Linked DNA regions of Homo sapiens: region 1 is linked to region 2. Evidence: fine-mapped expression QTL. Tissue or cell type: whole blood. Region 2 holds a variant in brackets; the other region holds the start of a gene. All regions are shown on one strand. Distances are from middle to middle.

Region 1 (5,126 bases), 59 kb before region 2:
CTTGCTTAGTATGTTTTCCATTTTATGGTAAACAATCAAAAAGCTGTTGTTTTAACAAAGTTCCATTTTTGTAGTGGAAGGAAAAAAAGCTTTATGGGTAGACTTGTGTTCTATATATACCTCGGGTGCTCTTGTTGAGGATAACTTAACTCAGGCTAGTAATAGACACTATAGTTCATGTGATACCCAAGCACACTGACCAGGAGGAATGCCACTGTTCCTAGTTACTGAGCAATTATCGCAAGCCAGTGCTTCACGCGCAATCGCATTTCATGTGTTTTATAGATGACGTGACAGATATAACATTTTTAACTATTTCCTTTTGCATTTCTCCACCTCCCAGCAGTTTAATTCCTTCCCTGGAAGCTTTTTTCCTATTCTAAGCTGGAGTGTGAGACTTGCTGTCTTGAGGAAGGGGCAGGAGGGATTCCATCTAGAACAAAGAAGGCCAGCTGTTAGGAAGAAGACTGAGATTAGGAAAGTCCCTACCAGAAGGAAAAGAAGGGGAACTCCTCCCCTTATGACTTGGTGAGGAAGTAAGAAAAAGAGGGAGAAGACAGGGGTTGAGATGCTAGAGTCCTGCCAACCCCACAGTCCTGAGGTCCAAATGCTGGGGTGGGGTGGGAATGGAGTTTAGGGATTCCTACAGCATAAGGGATCATGGCCTGTCTTCCCAGGGTGTTCATAGTCCACGACATCACAAAGAAACCATATTCAACCTGGCTTCTGAGCACTAGATCAGAAACAGTAAAGGAAATGAATGTCTTCAAAAACTGGTGACTGTGGTTAACCCTAAGGAAAGTAATGTCTGGGAGCCCTATAAATGAGACACTGAGACCTCTGAATTTTGTACCTGTAGATGCCCATGGCAGATAAATCACAAAAATATCCACAATTCTATACCCCCTCTTTGTATCCACACCTTTTGCAATTAGGCTTTGCAGTTCCCTAACAAGAGGCAAAGTCTATTTTCCATTCCTTGAATCTTGTCTGGTCTTGTAACTTGATGTGGCCAAAAGAATATGGCAGAAGTTTCCTTGTACCTTGCACTGTCTCTCAAAACTGCCCCTTTCATGAGAACAAGACTAAGTTAGTGTCCTGGAAGATGAGAGACCACATAGAGGACAGCTGAGGTACCTGGGTTAACAATCAGTCAACCGCAGTAACAAAGCCACCTAGCCAACCTGCAGCTGACCTCAAGTGCATGAACATTCCCAGCCAAAATCTGCTGAGATGAGAAGACCGAACCACCAAATGGAGCCCTGACTGAATTGTCAACCCACAAAATAGTAAATTAACTGAACATTTAGTTTTTAAGCTTCTAAATTTTGGGGTGCTTTGTTATGCAGCAATAGCTAACCAATACAATGCCTTGCCTATTAAAATAAAATTATTTGTAAGTAAAACTTTAGAAAAAAACAATAGCTGAGAAAGAAATCTGCATAGATGAGCAGGTGATTCAGAAATTCCCGTGTAAGAATGACATGGAAAGTACTGAGGGTCTGGTGGAATCATCTAGGCTTGTGGCCCTTTCAAAGAAGTTTCACTATATAGATCTCATTGACAGGAGAACAAGTAGAGGGAGTAATGGAATTGAGCAGGGGTATCAATGCAAGGCCTCAAAAGTCTAGAAAAGACCAGTCACAGACCCAGTGCAAAGTCCTTGGGGACCAGGCCAGACTAACCTCCTCATAGTAGACACCAGACCTCTGGGACCCAGGGGACATACTCAGATCCAAGGCCTGCCACCCTGTTGCTGGAGAATCTTCAGCTTCCTCTGCACCCAGAACCTTCTGAAGCATGAGGGAGGAAGTGAAATAATGAAAGGCTGAGTTGTTCTTGTACTTTTCCCTGAGTTAATTAAAAGACTGAGTTAACCTAAAAGACAATGGTGAAAGCCTATAGAGTGCTTACTCCACCCCACACATGCTACCACATTTTTATTCCTGTTTTACAGATGAGGAAACCGAGGCATAAAGTGGTCAAATGATTGTCCTAAGGTCACACAGCCAGACTGAGTAAAGCCAAGATTTGAACCCAGACAGTGTGGCTAAAGAGATTGCCTGGATTGCATGAATTGGCAAGATTAAGCTTTTCCTTCTTGATAGCCAGCACCAGGAGGCTCCTGAGGAAGTTCAGATCACTTACAGGAAACAAAGATGCCACAAACGCAAATGTTTGCACAATCTGAGTATGTTTCACTTGGACCCCAGGAAACAGAGGCTGAGAGAGTTACACATGATTATACTTTTAGGAATTAGGCCTGTACCCTCCCTGCAGTGCTAAAAGGAGGCCCCCATGGGGCTTGCTTTATAATAAATCCTTCTTCTTAAGCAATGTCACCTCCTCTACTTTCTGCACATCATGAATAATAATGGTTAATATGTTTAGCATTTACATTGTTCTGTGCCCTCACATTATTTCTCATAATCTTACCAAAACTGTTCTGAGGAGGGAACTGCCGTTGTTCCTACGCTGCAGATGAAGAAACAAAAGGCTCAGAAATGGGAAGTGACTTTGAAATCTTGCACAGCCAAGAAGAGGAAGATCCAATGTTTGCTCCAAATTCCACCCGATTCTGGAGTGCGTCCTATGACCTCAGTGCCCACCTCCCTCCCGGGCACCTAGGATGGAGCCTATGGCAAGGTTTTAGCACAGTGACTACAGGAATCACAGCCCAGACACAAAAGCAGGAAACCCTTTGACCGGGCTCCTTCCTATTGCACCAACAGCCTTGTGTTGCTGCAATGAAAACACTTCCCCAAGCAGCTGTGGCCAAGAGACGCAGAAACTGCCTTGTCCACGGGCCCCGCCTCAGACTCCAACACTCACAAGAGAGCAGAGGAGCCCCAAGTCTTGGGGACCACAGAAGATGCCATGTGCTCCACGATGTCGGCCCCCACCTGCCTGGCCCACTTGCCTCCCTGCTTCCTGCTGCTGGCACTGGTCCTTGTCCCCTCAGGTAAGTGGGGTCTAGGATAGAACAGGGTCCACCCCCGGCTGGTCAGTCCCTAGAGGGGCACTAAGTGCTCTGCCATGCCTGAAGAAGCTTGACCCCATGAAGATAGAGTAAAGAGGGGTCCACTGAAAATTTGCCTGACTCCGGCAGAGGGCACCCCCAGTGTCCCAAGAAGCAGCGTAGTGAAGTGATAAGCTCCCAGGCTCTGCGCTCACACCCACTGGCTTCCAGCTTGATTGCTCCTATGCCCACGTCAGATGCTGCAGCTCTTTTAGCCCCAGGAGCCTCTTCTACAAAACAGGGACGCTCATGGGACCTTTCTCTAGGGCTACTGTGAGTATTAAATAGAAAAGTGGTGAGGCTCAGCCCTGGGCCGGCTGCATAGTTTATGAGACCCACTGCAAAATGAAAACTGCGGTCTTTTGTTCAAAAAGTATTGAGCAACACAGCAGAGCAGTAAACCAAGCATGGGCTCCTTCTAAGCACAGGGCCCTGTGCGACTACATAGATGGCACAGCCATGAACCAGCCCTGGCTCAGCTTAAGACGCAGTAGGCTCAAACCTCACCACTAACCAGTTTAAGTAATTTCTTTCTGAGCCTCAGTTTTTCCAACTGTAAAATGGAGCTAAAAATAGGACCCACCTTGGGACTTTCTTAGGAGAATTTAACAAGATAATACCCATAAGTGCCTGGCATAACAAAGATTTGATAACTCTTGGCGATTATTATTATCATTCCCATGTTTCCTCTAACTCAGGGGCAGGCCAGGTTAGCTCCAGAGTCTTGAGACCCCTGAATATATAGCTCAGCCTCTGAGTCCAGAACTCTCTGATCTACCAGGCAGGGATACTTGGCTCTCAGTGGGCTCATTCCATCTCCTGCCCATCTGGGCCTCTGCTCCAGGCTCTACTGAGATCTAGATTCTGTCCATGACATCTTTGGTCCTCCGGGGTGGCCATCCCCAGGAGAGATCCTGGCAGAACCCAGGTGTGGGGTCGGACCTAGGTGCTCCCTTACTCATTGGCCGTATGACTCAAGACACCACTTCAATTCTCTAAGCTGATTTCCTCAATTCTAAGATGTGAATCATAATTGCTAGGTCTCATTCCACAGGTACTTTTGAGTGTCTGCTATGTTTTAGGCACTAGACTAGGAAATCAGAAATCTAAACTACTCAGAATAAAAAATATTCCCAATGATTGTTGCAATAGAATAGATGGAAAATAAGAGAAGTTGCTTAAACCAGTCAGTTGGAATGTTTGAGTCCAGCTGCATCTCAAGCTGAGTCAGGGCTGGTTCTTGGGTGTGCCCTCTATATAGTGGCACAGAGCCTCCTGCTTAGAAGGGCCCCATGCTTGGTTTAATGTTCTGCTGTGTTGCTCAATAGTTTTTGAACAAGGGACCTGCATTCCCGTTTTGCACTTGGCCTCACAAATTACGTAGCTGGCCCAGGATTGAGCCTCACCACTTCTCTATTTAATACTCACAGCAGCCCCGAGAAAAATATGAGTGCCCCTATTTTGCAGTAGAGGAGACTGGGGCTAACACATTTTCTATAAGGCTTTTAAAGGGAGCCCCATACAGGAACCATGAAAGGCAGAGGATGCAGATGGAAAATAGATGAGAAGGTCCAGCTCCACTGACAAGGCAGAGGCAAACCTCCTAGGACACCTCCTAAAGCCCAAGTGACAACACAGAAGGGGACTCAGAAGGGGAGAGGGAGGGAAGGGGTGTGGGCACCAGGACTGAGTCCAGGCTCCAGCTTCTTCCCTGGTGTTCACTTCCCCAGACTCACCCCTAGCTGAGATAAGACTTTCTGAGTGCTTCCTTCTTCCTCTCCTCCATTGCTTCTTTCTCCTCACACACGCAGGCTTCATCTTTACAAATAATTTATTTTTAACAGCTCTATTGAAGTGTAAGTGACATATATTAAACCGTACATATGTAAAGTACACAATTTGATAAGTTTTTTTTGTGAGTGCTGGGTGTATTTCACACTTGTGAAATCATCACCAAAATCAGCATCATGAACATATCCAGCGCCCAAAAGTTTCCTTGTGATTCGTCCTTGCCACTCCTCCTTGTCTCCAAAACAACCACGGATCTGTATTCTGTCACTATAGTTTGCATTTTCTAGAATTGTATATAATAAGGATCACACAGTTA
Region 2 (5,207 bases):
ACCACATCCTGTTTTGGTCAGCAGGGTTGTGACCAGAAAATAAGTTCTGCCAGACTGCTGCCTCATAAGAGTTGTTATACATTTGGCCATATGAGTGAGTATTAACTGTTAACCATTTTCTAATTCATTTAATTTTTAAAATTATCATACAGTAAAATTAACTATGTTGTATATAATTATACAGATTTCAGCACACGTATAGATTCATGTAACCACCACTACAATCAGGACACAAAACAATTCCATCATCCCAGAACCTCCCTCATGCAATGCCTTGATAGTCACACTACCCCTCAAACCCAATCCCTGACAGCCACTGATCTCTTCTTCATCATTGTGGTTTTGTCTTTTCCAGAACATCATGTAAATGGAAGCATACAGCATTTAACCTTTGGAGACTGGCCTCTTAGCATAATTCCTCTGAGATTCATCTGGAGGAACAATTTTCATATGTTGTGCTTATGGAAAGTTCATTGTTTTTTCATTGCCAAGTAATAGTCCATGATATGAATGTGCAACAATCTGTCTATCTGTTCAACCATTAGAGGATATTTGGGTTGTTGCCAGTTTGGGGCAATTAGAAATAGAGCTGCTATAAACATTCATGTACAGGTTTTTCTGTGAACAAAATTTTCCTTTCTCTAGGGCAGCAGTCCCCAATCTTTTTGGCATCAGGGACAGGTTTCGTGGAAGACAATTTTTCCACAGACTTAGGGAGTAGGGCGGATGGTTTCGGGATGATTCAAGCACATTTACATTTATTGTGCATTTTATTTCTATTGTTATTACATTGTAATATATAATGAAATAATTATACAATTCACCGTAATGTAGAATCAGTGGGAGCCCTGAGCTTGTTTTCCTGCAACTGGATGGTCCCATCTTGGGGTGTTGGGAGACAGCGACAGATCATCAGGCATTAGATTCTCATGAGAAGCACACAGTCTAGATCCCCTACATGCACAGTTCACAATAGGGTTTGCACTTCTATGAGAATCTAATGCTGCTGCTGATCTGATCTGACAGGAGGTGGAGTTCAGGTGGCAAGCAGTGGGGCAAGGCTATAAATATAGATAAAGCTTTGCTCACTCACCAGCCTCTCACCTCCTCTGTGCGGCTGGTTCCTAACAGGCCATGGACTGATACTGGTTCATGACCTAGGTTTTGGGGACCTCTGCTCTAGGGTGAATACTCTAGAGATGTCTAGGGTCTGGGGTGGCTGGGTTATATGGTAAGTGTATGTTTAACTTTATTTAAAACTGTCAAATCATTTCCCAGAGTGGCTGTTGCACTGCACATTCCTGTCAGCAATATATGAGATTTTTGGGTGCTACTTAGCTTCACCAACACTTGGTATTGTCAGCATTTTTATTTTAGTCATTTTAATAGGTGTGTAGTTATCTCTTGTCATGGTTTTGACATTAGCATGTCTTGTGATGCTAATGATGCTGAACATCTTTTCATATGCCATTTGCCACCCATAAATCCTTTTTGATAAAGCATTTTTAAGAGTCCTTGCCGGCCAGGCATGGTGGCTCATGCCTGTAATCCCAGCACTTTGGGAAGCTGAGGTGGGCAGATCACAAGGTCAGGAGATCGAGACCATCCTGGCTAACATGGTGAAAACCCGTCTCTACTAAAAATACAAAAAATTAGCCGGGCGTGGTGGCGGGTGCCTGTAGTCCCAGCTACTTGGAGGGCTGAGGCAGGAGAATGGCGTGAACCCAGGAGGCGGAGCTTGCAGTGAGGCGAGATGGTGCCACTGCACTCCAGCCTAGGTGAGAGTGCAAGACTCCGTCTCCAAAAAAAAAAAAAAAAAGAGTCCTTGCCTTTTTGTTTATTGGATTATTTGTTTTCTTACTGTTGGATTTTGAGAATTCTTTACAAATTGTGATTACAAAAATATAAATGCAGAATATCTATGAGTCCACCGTTACCTTGATATCAAAGGTATGATTCTATGAGTCCACCGTTACCTTGATATCAAAGGCAGACAAAACGACTGTCCGGTATATCTTATGAATATAGACTCAAAAAATCCTCAACAAAATAGCAAACCAAATCCAGTAGCACATTCAAAGGATTATAGATCATGACCAAGTGGGATTTCTCCCAGAAATGCAAGGGTGGCTCAACATAAGAAAAAAAAAAATCCATCAATGTAACACAACTCTGTAAAGAGGGAAATGATATCACAATAGATACATTAAATGCATGCAACAAAATTCAACACTTCAAACACTTTCAGGATACAAACACTCACCAACAAATCAGAATACAGAGAACTTCCTTAACATGATAAAGGTCACTTACACAAAACCCACAACTCACATTATACTCAATGGTAAAAGAGCAGAAGCTTCCCCACTGAGCAGGAACAAGACAAGAATGCCCATTTTTACCACTACTATTAAATATTGTACTGGAAGTCCTAGCCAGAGCAGTTAGGCAAGAAAAAGCAATAAACAGCCTCCAAACTGGAAAGGAAGCAGTAAAGTTATCTCTATTTGAAGATGAAATAATTCTATGTATAGAAAATATAACAATACCAAAATGCACACAACTACTAGAGCCAATAAACAAATTCAACATAGTTGCAGATT[G/A]CAAGATCAGTGCACGAAAGTCCATTTTCTATGCATCAGCAATGAACAGTCTGAAAATGAAATTAAGTAACAATTCCATTTATAACAGCATCCAAAAGAGTAAAATACTTAAACCAAGGAGAAAGACTTCTATGCTGAAAACTACAAAACATTGCTGAAAGAAATTAAAGAAGACCTAAATAAATGGAAGACAACACATGTTGATGTATTGGAATATTAATTGCAAATGATCCACAGATTCAATGCAACCCCTATCAAAATTCCAATGGCATTTCCTAAGGAAATAGAAAAACTAATCCTCAAATTTATGTGGAACTGGAATGAACCCCAAGTAGTCAAAATACTATTGAAAAAGAAACACACCAAAAAAGAAAGAAAAAGAAACACAAAGTTTCAGGGCTCATGCTTCCAGATTTCCAAACATGCTCCAAACTTCTATAATCAAACCAGTGTGGTACTGACATAAGGACAGACATATACACCAGTGGAATATAATTGACAGCCTAGAAATAAATATCTATGGCTAATTGATTTTCAATAAGTGTTCAGCACAACTCAATGGGGAAAGAATAGTCTCTTCAACAAACAGTGCCGGGGCAACTGCATAATCACAGGCAAAAGAATGAAGCTGGACCCGTACCTCACTCCATACACAAAAATTAACTCAAAATGGATCAATGACCCAAATACAAGAGGAAAACATAGGGGTAAACTATTTAGAGAAAAACATAGGAGTAAATATTTATAACCTCAGACTTGGCAATGGATTCTTAGATTTGACACCAAAAGCATGAGCAACAAAAGGAAGAAATGGATAAATTAGACTTCATAAAAAGTAAAACCATTTGCACAATAAAATATATTATCTAGAAAGTAGAAACACAGCCCACAAAATGAGAGAAAGTATTTGCAAATAATGGACTTGTATCCAGAATATATAAAGAACACTTAAAACTCAACCACAAAAAAAAAAAAAAAAATTAAGAAATAGGCAAAGAACCTGAATAGACATATCTCCAGAGAAGACATACAAATGGCCAATAAGCACATGAAAGCATGTTCAGCATCATTTGTTACTAAAGAAATGCAAATGAAAACCACAGTGGGATACCACTTAACACCTGCAAGAGATAAACCACTTCACACCCGCTAGGATAACTATAATCAAAAACATGGAAAATAGCAAATGTTGATAAGGATATGGAGAAATAGAAACTTGTACACTGGGATCACACAATAGAGAACACTGTAGTAACATTTTGGTCTGCTCACAAGACCCAGAACATTTACCAGTTTTTGTTGTTGGTTTATTATTTTTCTGTTAAAAAAAATTGTGAAAAGTTTGTTTTAGCTGGATGATATTTTAATAGTTGCCAGTGCTTTGGAACTATGTAGATGTCACTACTTAACACATATACCTTATGTTTTGTTTTATTTTGTTTTACACTCAGTATAAATCAGGAACATTTAGCCAACCACCTAGCATTTAGAATCCTCTTTTTTATTGGCTTCTAAGGATATGGATGTTCCCATAACAGCAACAAAAACATTTTATAAATATCACTTGATAGACTTTAAGCACCTGCTTAACTCTGAATGTGTCCCAAATATTTAGTGTAGATAGATAGATAGATATTCAACAAATAAAGCAAAATATAACATGCATTTCACATTTTGTCTTTCCCTGTTACAATTTTAATAGCAGAACTGTATGACAAATTTAGGTGATCCTAGCATATGTTAAATTCAAATTAATGTAAAACAGATCAACAACAACAAAGAAACTCTATTTGAGCGAAGTCATGCTTTCTATTATAATAACTTGGCTTCGGTTATCCATCAAATGCACACTTACACTGTTGTCTGATTGTTTATAATAAAGAATACTGAACCTATAAAAGAAAAAAGAAACCCTTGTCACTGTTGGAAGTTGCTGTGGAAAACAATTTGGTGGCTCCTCAAAAAGCTAAACATAGAATTACATATGACCCAGAAATTCCACTCTTAGGAATTATATTAGTCAGAGTTCTCCAGAGAAACAGAACCAATGCAATACATATAGAGAAGATTTATTATGGGAATTGTTTCATGCAATTACAGAGGCCAAGAAGTCCCATGACATACTATTTACAAGCTGAAGAACCAGGAAAGATGGTGATGTAATTCAGTTGAAGTCTGAGAGCCTGAGAATCAGGGAAGCCAGTGGTGTAACTCCCACTCCAAGGCCTAAGGTCTGAGAATCTGGGGGTGGGAGGCTATTGATATAAGCCTTAGAGTCCAAAAGCCTGAGAACCAAGAGCTCCATTGTCTGAGAGCAGGAGAAGGTGATCCAGCTGAAAAAGAGAGAGAATTTGCACTTCCTCCACATTTTTGTTCTATTTTAATGGGCCTTCAACACCGAAGTTCATCCATGATGTCTGCCCACACTGGGGAGGATGATCTTCTTTACTCCATCCACTGATTCAAATACTAATCTAGAAAACACCCTCACAGACACACTCTGAAATAACGTTTTACCATAGATCTGGGTATCCCATAATCCAGTCAAATTAATGCATAAAGTTAAACATCCCAGATATATATTCAAAAGAATTGAAAACAGGT

Evidence for each region. PIP is the estimated chance that this variant, and not a neighbour inherited with it, causes the effect.
Region 1: SIRPB2 starts here. The variant in region 2 is fine-mapped to the expression of SIRPB2 in whole blood (TOPMed, PIP above 0.99).

What each region holds. Positions count from the first base shown.
Region 1 is chr20:1,489,111-1,494,236 of GRCh38, reverse strand. SIRPB2 (signal regulatory protein beta 2) reads left to right here and starts at 2,817. Exons shown (of 5, transcript NM_001122962.2): 1 at 2,817-2,962. The coding sequence starts at 2,878.
Region 2 is chr20:1,429,845-1,435,051 of GRCh38, reverse strand. No RefSeq gene overlaps it. Among named protein-coding and RNA genes, the nearest start is that of NSFL1C, 34 kb to the left of the region's middle. The variant G/A (reference allele first, on the strand shown) is at 2,604.